3 separate regions of the Homo sapiens genome follow, and regions 2 and 3 are each linked to region 1. The links come from fine-mapping of genetic effects on gene expression. A gene starts in region 1. Each other region holds a variant in brackets. All regions are shown on one strand. Distances are between the middles of the regions.

What was found. PIP is the estimated chance that this variant, and not a neighbour inherited with it, causes the effect. A credible set is the group of variants that fine-mapping cannot tell apart.
Region 2: its variant is the best candidate, but not a certain one, in a credible set for the expression of KCNQ3 in sun-exposed skin (GTEx, PIP 0.52).
Region 3: its variant is the best candidate, but not a certain one, in a credible set for the expression of KCNQ3 in blood mononuclear cells (TOPMed, PIP 0.59).

What each region holds. Positions count from the first base shown.
Region 1 is chr8:132,478,605-132,482,844 of GRCh38, reverse strand. KCNQ3 (potassium voltage-gated channel subfamily Q member 3) reads left to right here and starts at 1,750. Exons shown (of 15, transcript NM_004519.4): 1 at 1,750-2,698. The coding sequence starts at 2,313.
Region 2 is chr8:132,417,978-132,422,217 of GRCh38, reverse strand. All of the region lies in intron 1 of KCNQ3 (potassium voltage-gated channel subfamily Q member 3), which reads left to right. Among named protein-coding and RNA genes, the nearest start is that of KCNQ3, 61 kb to the left of the region's middle. The variant C/T (reference allele first, on the strand shown) is at 1,756.
Region 3 is chr8:132,601,358-132,605,597 of GRCh38, reverse strand. The region is part of intron 10 of DNAAF11 (dynein axonemal assembly factor 11); the gene reads left to right. Among named protein-coding and RNA genes, the nearest start is that of HPYR1, 42 kb to the right of the region's middle. The variant T/C (reference allele first, on the strand shown) is at 1,906.

The DNA of each region.
Region 1 (4,240 bases):
ACTCACTGCTGAGCATTTATCTATTCACGGATGTACAGGGGTCCTACTGGGCACTGCCACGTTTCCATATGCTATTTCCTATAATTCCTCACAAAACCCATCAACCAGTGAACAGCCTTTTCCCCTGGGGTTCTTGTCATGAACTCTTCCCGTTTAATATTAAGTTCCCATGCTAGAGTCTGTTTCTGGACAAAGAATTCTGTTGCACTGAGAGTTTATTTTTGTACCGATCCCACACTGTTTTAATGATTTCAGTCTTACAGTTTAACTTCCTCTGGAAACTCCTCCCTTCTTGATTTGGAGACCTCTTTTGAGGTTCTCCCCTTTGATAGTCATTCTATAGGGTGGTGGTTCTCTGACCCTTCCCCTGCCCCAGCCCATACATTCCTACTCCCTTCCCTTCCTTCTTCCCTTCCCTGTCTCCTATGCTCTCCTTGGCCAACTTCTCCAGGCAAATCCAGAGCTGGTGTTCTTGCAGGTCTGATTCCTCTTTTCTTATACACTAGGGATAGATCCTCGGCCTTGTTCACAGGGTCTCCCCTCACCCCATGTCTCTCACCCCAGCTGACAGACATGAGGTGAGAGAGTGGGAAGGAAAGGAGGCCACAGATGCCATGGGGCAGCAGGAATGGAGGCTTCCCCGATGGCGGTGGGCATGGAAGAAGTGCAGGATGCTCCTGTCCTTTGTCAGTGTCTTACAAGATCTAGCCTTTGCCTGTGGCCTACTCTCATTAAGCTCAAGCCACCCTTCCCCTCCGCACCCGCTGTTCTGCTGTTTGGAGGGCTCTCTGGACATTTACATAGTTGCTCCCAGCTTGTCATTAGGGTCTCACCTCGAAGCATCACCTCCACAATAAGGCCTTCCACGACCAGCCGGTTTAGAGTGACTCCCCCAGTCACTATAGCGCAGCACTCTAATTTGTTACCACATACTATTTACCAATATCGGAAATTCTACTGTTAAAATTTGTCTTTTCATTGTCTTCCACCGGCTAGGACGGAGGTCTTAGGAGTGCAGAGACCTCATATCTTCAGGACAGAGATCACTACCCTTTGCCAGGGAAGCTCACGAGGGGTTACAGATTGGTTGATTGAATTGAAATTTGGACCAGAGAGGGAATGACTGGCTTGGGTGCAAGTCGGGAGCAAAGCAGGAATCAAAGATTCTGACTGCATTTCTTCAGTCCTTTGCCCACCCAGACAGGTGAAGGTGCTATTCAAAGATTGGGGGAGGAGAGGGCCGCGGCATCCACCATGAACCACGAACTAGAGGGAAGAGGGAAGAGGGAAGAGGGAAGAGGGAGTCACGAGCTTCGCTACCACAGAGCAGGTGCGTTCGCGGTGCGCCCGGCCTTGACCAACCCGACAACTTGGCTTTTACCTCTGAAGCCGAGGAGCAGGGGTAGGGGGTGAGGGAAATTCACAAAGCTGCAACCACAGAGCCAATGTTTGGTGGGCGACAACCCCCCAGTCCCTCCTCCCTTCCTCTTCTTCCCCCAACTGCCCGCCGTCACGCCCCATCCAGGGGAAGCCCCAACGCCCACGGGAGCTCCAGGAGCCGGGCTCTGCAGCCGCCTGGCGCACTGCCTGGTTGCAACGGGGGCGGCGGTAGCCCAGGCGATCCTGGGTCCCCAGACAATCAGCGGTGGGGGTCGGCGGGAAGAGGCGGGGCGCCGCCGCCCGGGCCTCCCGCCGCGACGGGGCGGGACAATGGGGCCCCACCCCGGGGAAGGAGGGAGGGAGGGACGCGGCGTGCTCTCGGCCCGCGGCGCGCTCGCTGCTGCTGCTGCTGACAGGCTGAGGCTGGAACGGGCGGGGAGGGGCGCGGGTGGGAGCGCGGAGGAGGGAGGAGGCGGCGGCGGCGGCGCGTGTGGCTGGCGGGCGGGAGGGCGGCTGGCACCGGGCTTGTAAATAAACTGCGATGCTGTCTTGGGCTCGCCGGCCTGGGTGCCGCCGCCGCCGCCGCCGCCCCGGAGCGCCGGTTCCAGGCTCCCGCCGCCGCGCGCCCTAGCGCCTCCGCGCCAGCCTCGCGCGCCCTCCCAGCTTCTCCGCAGCCCCCGGCCCGCGACCCTCGGGGTCCTGCGGCTGACCCGCGCGGGATGTGACCCCCTGACCCCCTGCCTGGCCTCCCCTGCCCCCCAGGGGGCCCGCCTTTGCCTGCTTTTGGGGGGGGGTGGGGAGGGGCGCGCGGATCATGGCATTGGAGTTCCCGGGCTTGCAGCCGCCGCCGCCGCCTCGTTCACGCACCCCGAGCGCCCCTTCTTCCCAGAGCAGCAGCGGAGAAGGCGAAGCGGCCGGCGGGGGCGAGGCAGATGGGGCTCAAGGCGCGCAGGGCGGCGGGGGCGGCTGGCGGCGGCGGCGACGGGGGCGGCGGAGGCGGCGGGGCGGCTAACCCAGCCGGAGGGGACGCGGCGGCGGCCGGCGACGAGGAGCGGAAAGTGGGGCTGGCGCCCGGCGACGTGGAGCAAGTCACCTTGGCGCTCGGGGCCGGAGCCGACAAAGACGGGACCCTGCTGCTGGAGGGCGGCGGCCGCGACGAGGGGCAGCGGAGGACCCCGCAGGGCATCGGGCTCCTGGCCAAGACCCCGCTGAGCCGCCCAGTCAAGAGAAACAACGCCAAGTACCGGCGCATCCAAACTTTGATCTACGACGCCCTGGAGAGACCGCGGGGCTGGGCGCTGCTTTACCACGCGTTGGTGTGAGTACCCGGCCGCTCGGGGCGCCCTCGGCGGCGGCGCGCTTGGGGACTTGGGGTCGGGGCTGGAGCTGAGAAGTCTCTGGGGCTTTAAGACCCATGGATGCTTTCCCGCTGAAGGGGAGACCAGCCCGTCCTCAGCACGCGTTTCCCTGGGTGTGTGTGTGTGTGTGTGTGTGTGTGTGTGTGTGTGTGTGTGTTGCCGCTCTCCGGGTGTTCCACACTAGGGGCTTAAAAAACGAAGCGTGGTTCCCCTGCTGATTTGGGCGGATGTGTGCGCGCGCGGGTGCACATTTATGACATCTTCTAGGGGTGTTGGTTTGGAAGCTTAAAATAATTATGTGGGTTTTTCCAATTAATGTGAGGGTTGAAGAGGATAAAGCGGGTCCTCCCGTGAGCTCTGTGTTTCTGTTTCGGGTGGATCCCTTCTGTTGGGATCGCCACTGAGTTTAGTTGGGGATGGGAGGGGTGCGCACCACCCATAGTGGGGAGCGTGTGTGTGTGTGTGTGTGTGTGTGTGTCGCTTGCTTGTGCCACCCTTCTGATCGCTGGGTACTGGTACAGAGAAGAACCTGGTGCTGCTCTGACTGGGAGCTGGGACTGGCCAAAATGCATGTTCTAGGATTCCTTTTAGGGAAGTGAATGGGAACGTGTGTGTCTAAGCCTAGACTGAGGGGCTGGGGCTTCACAGAGCCAGGAGGTGAGGGGGCCGGGGACTCTTTTGGCTGAAACATCTCCTTGATTTGGGATCCGATATTCCCTCAGCCTCAGTCGCTGCTGCTTCTCCTGCTTTGGCTGGCCTAGGGCACCGGGAATGTGAGGGGCTTGGCCTGGAGGTTTGCACCCAGGCACTGTTCTCCTAGAAAGAATCTCCTTGCTAGTCCGATGTAAATGCATGGCCAGAAGGAAGAAGGAACTCCCTCTGCACCTGCCACTGGGGATGGAAAATCCACCCGTATTTGGGAGGGGGGAGAGGATGGTGGGGGTGCTCCTCATTCAAGATTGGAAATCTGTGCTGTCAGCACCCATCTCGGAGCTGGCAGGGCACGTCCAGCCATCAAGCTCTGCCTTCTGGCTCTGGTTTAGTCATCCTGATGGCTGCTTCTAGGAAGCTGTACTGTACCAGGGTTTTGGCAGGGAATTGCCTATGACCTTGGCAACCCCCCCTCCCCCCTCTCTCCCCCACGCGTTTAGCAGTGGATTTTCCTCTCTATTCTCCTCCAATTCACCCATGACTGATGTGGTCGGAAGGGCTCAGGAGCCTTGGAGTTAGTTACACTACCTGCCAGTTTTTCTTGGTTAGAGACGTTTTTCTAGGTTCGGCCACCAGGTGGGGGCGTCCACACAGGACCTCAGACTTAGCAACAGGTTTCTTCAAGGAGGTTACCAAGCCCGGAGAGGGTGCCTTCCCGGAAACTAAGGAACCAGCAGGAAGGGTGGGGTGGGAGTGGGGCATTTTCCCAGAAACGTGGATGTTGGTGTCTGTATGAGTGTGCGTGTGTATGTGTGTGTGTGTGTGTCTATTTGCAGGTGTTGGTCGGGGTC
Region 2 (4,240 bases), 61 kb after region 1:
GTCTCTGATTGGAGCAACTGCATTAGATGGTGGTGTCATTTCCTGAGAAGGGCGATCCTGGAATGAGCCAGTTTGGAGGTGAAATCCAAGCCAGTTTGGAGGTGAAATCTGGTGTTGGCAGGCAGTCATTGTTGGTGTGAGCTGGTGGAGGCACTGACCAGGCATCTGGGTAGAAAGGCTGTAGCTCTGAGTGGAGGGTATAACCTTTCTCTCTTTCTAACACTGATGGTGCAGCCCCAGCACTAGAGGCCTCATGATCCCACCAGAAGAGGAAGGGAGACGGAAAGCCTGTAACATTGGAACTAGTATGAGGATTTGAACCTGGCCCATCCTGGCTCCCTTTGGAAAATGAAGTCTGTATTTGCCCATCTTCAGGATCCAGATGTCTCTCCCATTATCTGTTTTAAAAGATAAATTTCCTGTGTGATTCTGCAGCCAGATCCAGGTGGAGGGTTCATCTAGGCCAGTGTCTCGCATCCTGGTAGGATCTTTCATATGTTCCAACTTGTTCCTGCTTACGGAGGTTTGTTCCTCATTTTCCTTTGGAACACATTGTTTTTGCTGAAGACAGAACCACCAGTTGAGGTTAAAAAAGAAAAAAAAGACCACTTTCACCTGTCATCTGTTACCACCCACCATCTGCCCCAAGTGAATCCCCCATTTTGTTCCCCCGACCCACACACCCTAGGTCAGGCAGCATCATTTTGGTCATAACCTGTCTTTCCTCTGCTCCTCTGCGCTCTTCCTGTAGATTTGAAGAACTTTTAAAAATGTTTCCTGCCAGCACCTCGTGTCACCTGTTCCTTTTGTCAGCTGGTAGTTATGAGGGAGCCTTTCCCATTTCCCAGCGTTGGCTTCTTGAGACTTCTTATCGAACAATTTGTGATGAACTGTTGGAATTTCATTTTCCTAGACGTTTTCTTGGGCCCAGACTGCTACCATTTTCCTGAGAGCTTCTATGTGCCCCTCACATGCATGAATATATTTAGTCATCAAATATCTTAAAATATATTATTCATATGTAGAGATAATTGGAACACAAGACTGTGTATTACATCTGCACATACACTTATCTAACCAGAAAATTTAGAAAACACAGCAAAGCCCTCCTAATGTTTGCAGGTTGACTGTATGAGCCGTTTAAACATTCACCTCTGCCCCACATCCCCTGCTCAAACTCCTCCTGGTATATGCCAGTCATGCCTTCCTGTTTACCTTTCAAATCATGTTTACTTTGGGGATTAAAATTTAAATGTATTTCATGTCAACCCAAGCAACTTTTTTGTTTTTTGTTTTTTTTGCATCTCTACATCTCTACTATGTGCTGGTCTGGGAGCTGGAGTGACCGAGGTCGAGGAGAGAAACCCAGGGGCCCTCTGTGCAGTGCTTCCCAGCATCTAGAGCCCCAGTTAGAGACTCTCCTCACAGACTCCAGAAATGCAAAACACATGGAAAGCACAGAAACATGTTGCTTTTGCAACATCATTTATCAACACACCTCAAGAACACTGGGGTTTGGTACAAATTAGTTATTCACTGAAGCATAAAGCAGTTAAATAAACACTTATGCTTTCCCAGAGGATTCTTCCCTCCGTGAGTCTGTTCTGACCACAGTGACCTCCCTTATGTGCTGCCTGGGATCTGGTTCATCTCTATCTTTTGAAAAAAGAACACAGCCCACACACTTCCGGGTGTCAGCCGAGGAGACATCAAGTCCTGGTGCTGGATGTTTCTGGCTCAAGGGAAAAGGGCAAG[C/T]TGCAGATGTCGCCAGGCTGGTCTTCTGGCTGTGGCAGCCCAGAAGGTGGATGGACCCTCATCATCTGTGTCCATGACACTGCAGTGATGTTTTCTAAGGCACATCGGGACTTACCCACCCAAATATTCCTTCCCTTGGGTGGGCAACCTGTTATGGACTGAATGCATCCCTCCAAAATTCATATGTTGAAGTCCTAACTCCAAGTGTGATAGTATTAGGAGGTGGGGCTTTGGGGAGGTGATTAGGTCATGGGGGAGAATCTTCAAGAATGGGATTAGTGCTCTCTTGTACAAGAGACCCCAGAGCCCTCTCCCATCTCCCATGTTCTGCCCACCATATGAGACCACAAGGAGAAGGTGTCAGTCTGCACCCCAGAAGAGGGCCCTGACCAGAACCCAGCAATGCTGGCACCCTGATCTTGGACTTCCAGTATCCAGAACTGTGAGAAATAAATTTCTGTTGTTTATAAGCTACTCACTCTCTGGTACTTTGTTATAACAGCCCAAACTGACTGAGACAGTACCCATGTATTCCAACGTGGGAGTGCTGTTCGTTTTATCCTTTAAGAGATGACATGTTGACATGTTTGGAAGAATGCAGGTTTTCCGGTAAGACAGTACTGGGCTCAATTACAGGACTTATCAGTTGTTGTTACTGATGCTGAATATCTGTGTTGCCTTGGAAAGTCACTTCGGGATTTTTGAGCCTCAGTTTTCTCATCTCTAAAATGGGCTAATAATATTGACCATCAAAGATTTGTTTTGAGGTACAACACCTAGAATAGCACCTGTATCTACTGGCTACATAGAAAACAGTTCTCATTTTTCTGATCTACAGAGAGCACTCTCTGAGGGCACAGGCAGCTTCAGTGGTGGAGATGGGTGTGGCTGTCCATTGTCTTTTCTCTGGCCCCCATGATGGTTTTCTTGGAAAGCATTTTAAGGCTAAGAAAGGCTCTGTCTGGTCTCAGGAATCAGGACTCAGGCACTGGATGTTTTTTGTGTGAATTTTCCATCAGTGTATTAACAATGGTAAGACAGAGGGAGATAATGCTCTTAAAAGCAGTATTAAATGAAAAATGTTGCATTTATTATTGCATTTTACTAGGGTGGCTCTATCTTCAATGATGCCCGTGACCTGCAAATCCAGAAATCCAGACAAATGGTCTAATAGTTTTCAAAGTTTTTACAGCTGAAAATTGAGAGGATGAAAGGTGCTGTGGTTAAGCCAAGGTGAGAGAACACTGTTGTTCAGCAGGGAGCCTGGCAGTGGAAGGAATTTCTGCCTTCTTCAAAGAGTGCTGCCATGCCTTAGTTCCCGAAGTATTAGGCTTTTGGACTGGAAGGCATTGTATTGACCTTTTTAGATGGATCTCTTCTCAGTGATGTTGCCTCGCTTTTCTCATGCTTCTCCCATGTGCTGGAGATCACTTACATCTTTGTGTATCTTATGGTAGGTGCTGTAATGCCCATTTTACAGATGAGAAAACTGAGGCTTAGAAATTGACTTGCTTTACGTCACATGGCTTTTAAAGATTGAATTAGGACTTGCACAGAAGTCTGACCACAATGCTGCCTGCTGCTTTTCCTCACCTTTCTCTGTGCCCACACCCCAACACCACTTACAACTATCTACTTTTTATTTTTATGTTTTTAAATTTATTTAATTTATTTTTTGAGACATAGTCTCATTCTGTTGCCCAAACTGGAGTCCGGTGGCATGGTCTCGGCTCACTGCACCCTCTGCTTCTCCAGCTCAAGTGATTCTCTGGCCTCAGCCTCCCAAGTAGCTGGGACTACAGGCACGCACCACCACACCTGGCTAATTTTTATATTTTTAGTAGAGACGATGTTTCATCATGTTGTCCAGGCAGGTCTTGAACTCCTGGTCTCAAGTGATCCACCTGCCTTGGCCTCCCAAAATGCTGGGATTACAGGTGTGAACCACTGTGCCCGGCCATCTACTTTTTAAATTTAGCAATTGAGGAGGGTGAAACCCGAGTGGGGAATAAATGACTTACCCCTAGTCACAGAGACCATTAGAGGCAGAGTCGGGTTGAGACCCAGAGCTCCTCCCTCCCTCGCCTGCTTTTTTCTGCTCTCCTGCCAGCCTTCCGTGAGCACGCCTCATTAAACCCACACAGAGCCACGGATGTTTCCTCAGCTCTGTCACAGATCCCTTCTTGCTGGCTGCCAGTTAATGCCGCTCCTCTTCAGAAAGCCTATGGTCTGAGTTTATATTTATCTTGTCCTCAGGCTTCAAAGTAATTGTTTCCTCCTTGTTTTCGTGTGGGTCACTCAGTGTGGGTAATATGTTCTTACTCAGAAAAAAACCAGCACTGCCTTCTTATTCCCAATCACAGTGCCAGCATGCTAAGTGTCGTGTCCCTGATCCAATCCCGGTGATCTCAGGAAATCTCCTCTGGAAGATGAGGGGGGTGTGGCTCGGTGGAGAAATATTCCCCTCAACTAGAGCCAGGAGTGC
Region 3 (4,240 bases), 120 kb before region 1:
TTTAAGCTTCCTGAGAACAGGGAGTGTTGTCTGTCCTTGTCAATGGCACCTAGAACAGATCCTGGCAAAGAGTAGGTCTTCAATAAATTTTTGTTGAATGAGTGAATACCTTAAATGTATCTTTAAAATACATTTTAATATTTAGAACATGCGTCTCCCCTAAACTACTCTCCCTCTCAACTATTTCCTGATTATTTTTCCATATGTATTTTTCTGGGTTAACTTTCAAATGAGTTTCTCAAATTCCGCCTCTGAAAAGACCATTGGAATTTTTATTGCCATGGATTTAGAGGCAGTGGGAAGAAATGATTAAGGGAATGGGCTCTGGAGCCAGAGAACCTGAATTAAATTCTGATATTTCACTCAGCAACTGTGTGACCTTGGCAAATTATTCATCTCTCTGTGCCTCAGATTCCTCATTCATAAAATGATATCAGTAGTAATTCAGACCTCAAAAGGTTATTTTGAGGATTATGCAAGTGAATATAAATAAAGTACCTAGGACAGCGCTTGGGACATAATACACACTACATTAATGTTTACTGTTAATATTATTCATTGCTAGTAATGCATATTATTAAATAATATCAATTGCTACTAGCTAGTATTTTATAATTATTAAGATTGCATTGAATTTATAGATTGCAATAGGAATGAATTGATGTATTTACATTATCAAAATTGGATATTCAATAATGTGTCTCTCCATTATTACTCTTATTTTATGTCCATTAGAAGGTTTTCTTTGTTGGTAGTTTTCTCTCTATAGTTGCTACACATGTCCTAAGTTTATTTATAGATATTATATGTATGATTTTAGTTTCTATTTTGGTTGGGGTTATTCCTCATCACATTTTCTAGGAGTTTATGTCTGGCCTTCATTCCAAGTTCTTTAAAATGTGTAATCAAACTAAGTTCTATGTACATAATCTTTTCATCATCATCCGGAGGATATCTAGCATATGATTTTACCACAGTCCAACTTAAAATTTAACTGGAATTTTGCATGCACTGAGAGGCTTGTTCACTTGCATCAAGTCATTAAATTAAACTGCCATCTCAATTCTTAAATGACAAGTTACAGGAACACTCCAAGAATATGCTTCATGATTTCCTTTGGGTGTTTCTTCAGAATAATTAACTGAGATTAAGGAAGTTGCCATGTGAACTGAACAGCAAAATATATTTACCACTTCAGTGGTGAATATCTTGCTTAATTCTGTTTATACTGAGCATAAGAAGTGAAGATCACATATTAAGGTCAATAATACAGACCATACTTCTAAAAAACACAATCTCAAACCAACCTCCTCCTTATTAGTTGCACACATTCCACTTTTTCTCTGCTCAAATATACTGGTGATATACCCAACACAAATGCACTTTTATTCTCTGATTGTCAAGTGGGTCTATAGTGTTGCCTGGGCATCTTGCTAGGTTTTCTTGTTTCATCCATACTTCTGCTCTTTTATTTCTCATTCTCAGCTCATTTATAAAACTTCCAACTGAAGCTCATTCCTGAAATTTCTAACTGAAAAAAGTGGAAGCCTCAAAAGATAATTTCCACAAACTTTAACCATAATGGCTACCAACCTATCTGCATTTATATCCCCTTGTGCAACCTGGCCTTCCTTCCTTCCTAATTCTATGAATGAACTGTCTGTGGTGTATGCAATCCCTCTAGATGTGTATTGGATCCTATTTCCACTTGCTTTTAAAAGACTTCCCACTCCGCCCCCGCCTTTGGCAGTTCTCTGCTCTCTATACTTTTTCTTTGAATGTCACCTCTCTGAATCTTACATTAGAAAACATTCTGAAAGGTCTCCCCTCTTAAAAAACAAAGACAGAACAAAATAAAAACATCCCCCTCTATTTACCGCCCTGGTCCACTTCATTGCAAAACTT[T/C]TAAAAAAGACGCCTCTATTTGCTGTTTCAAATCTTTTCTCATTATCTCTCAAATCAACTCCAATTAGGCATTATGTCCTCCCCACACCCCCACCCCCCACTAAAACATCTCTCTTTGATGTCTCCAATAACCTCCAGATTACTAAACCTGGTGATCATCCCTTGTCCTCCTCTTATTTAACCTTTTAGTAGGCTTTTTATCCCTTATACAGTTCCTCCATATTTAAATCCTTGCTCACTTGGCTTTCAATACACAGCTTTCACTCTGCCACCAGATACTTCTGTCTGCTGGAGTCCTTTGCCACCAGGTGCTTCATTGCTGGTTGTTTCTTATACCTAGGCTTCTGCAAGTTGGTGTGTGCAATAATTCAATTCTGAGACCTCTGTTCTTCTCTATTTGTACTCCTTCCTACATACTACCATCTTCTCATAATACCTCTAGAGCTCTGTCATCTGCTAAAGGCCAACTAAGTCACAAGGAACAACAATCACACTGAGAACTTAAGAAGATGGACTACATATTTTAAAAACATCTTAATAGTACCAGTACCTACCAAGATAGTGAATAGCCACTGTCCTCTGGACAAAAAGAATCCTTCAGTGACCACACAGGTGGGAAGAAAACAACTAATGTCCAGAGCCTGCCAAAAAGGGGACTCTAATAAATCGCTCTCACTTTGGGGTGTGATTCTGAAGGATTGTAACCTTTTAGTAAGGTGAATAAGATGTAAACCAGTCATCAGAAGGCCTCACAGCCTGTCTTCACACTATCTAACTTGGACTTGAGCTTGAGTGAAGGTTGTCTTGGATAAGTAACACCCACACATGCCTGGCAAACCCAGTGAAAATCCTTTCTAGAAGAGGCAGGCTCAAATTATATATATTACAAACATACACGCATATGTATGTATGTGTGCTGTGTGTATATATATATATATATATATATATTTCAAATTAAGTATCCAGTATGCAAAGATAAACTAGATACACACAGGGACATGAGTAGGATTCAGTAGAAACCCAGTCCAGTTTTGGAATTTGATTATGGCAGGTTGTTGCTCTTCTTCCTTGAGGGCAACCTTGAGGGTCCCACAGTTGCTGTGGGCATTAAATTGTTAGAAACAGACTGTAAAACACTGTTTTAATTTGGTGTCTTTCAGAAGCAGAAATTTACATAGGGATTGCAGTAGAGTAGTTTATTTGGGAAGTATGGGAATGCTGGAAGGGAAGGCGGCCAATAGAGAGTTCTCTGTTAAACCAGCTTCCCTGGTGGGAAAACTCTAGAAGACAGTGCTAAACACATACCTCAGCACAACCCTACATAAGGGGTGATGGAACTGGGACATTTGTGCACCAGCTCCTGAGGATCCTTGGTTGATGGCTGCTCCCTGTTGTGGGGTGGTAGTGACATTGATGTTGATGCTGATTATGTTAGGAGGCAATAGTCAAGCATGAAATGTTTTATAAGGAAACAGAAAATACAAAAGTGGTTTAATACTTGAAAATGAATGAAATAAAAATGTTTTAAAATTGAAATATGATAACTTTAAAATTTAATGAGTAGATTTAACAGCAGATTAGACATAGCTGAAGAGAGCACTGCTACACTGGAAAGTAAGAAGATGAGATCCAGAATGAAGCATAGAGAAAAAAAAATATTAACGAAGACAGTAAGAACACATAGAATAGAGTGAGAAGGTCTAACATGTTTAGTTAGTGTCATATGGAGAATAAAGGAAGAATTTAGCAGAGATAGTTTATTATTATTATTATTATACTTTAAGTTCTAGGGCACATGTGCACAACGTAAAGGTTTGTTACATATGTATATATGCACCATGTTGGTGTGCTGCACCCATTAACTCATCATCTACATTAGGTATATCTCCTAATGCTATCCCTCCACCCTCCCCGCACCCCATGACAGGCCCCGGTATGTGATGTTCCCCTTCCTGTGTCCAAGTGTTCTCATTGTTCAATTCCCACCTATGAGTGAGAACATGCGGTGTTTGGTTTTTTGTCCTTGTGATAGTTTGCTGAGAATAATGGTTTCCAGCTTCATCCATGTCCCTACAAAGGACATGAACTCATCTTTTTTATGGCTGCATAGTATTCCATGGTGTATATGTGTCACATTTTCTTAATCCAGTCTATCATTAATGGATATTTGGGTTGGTTCCAAGTCTTTGCTATTGTGAATAGTGCTGCAATAAACATACGTGTGCATGTGTCTTTGTAGCAGCATGATTTATAATCCTTTGGGTATATACCCAGTAGTAGGATGACTGGGTCAAATGGTATTTCTAGTTCTAGATCCTTGAAGAATCACCACACT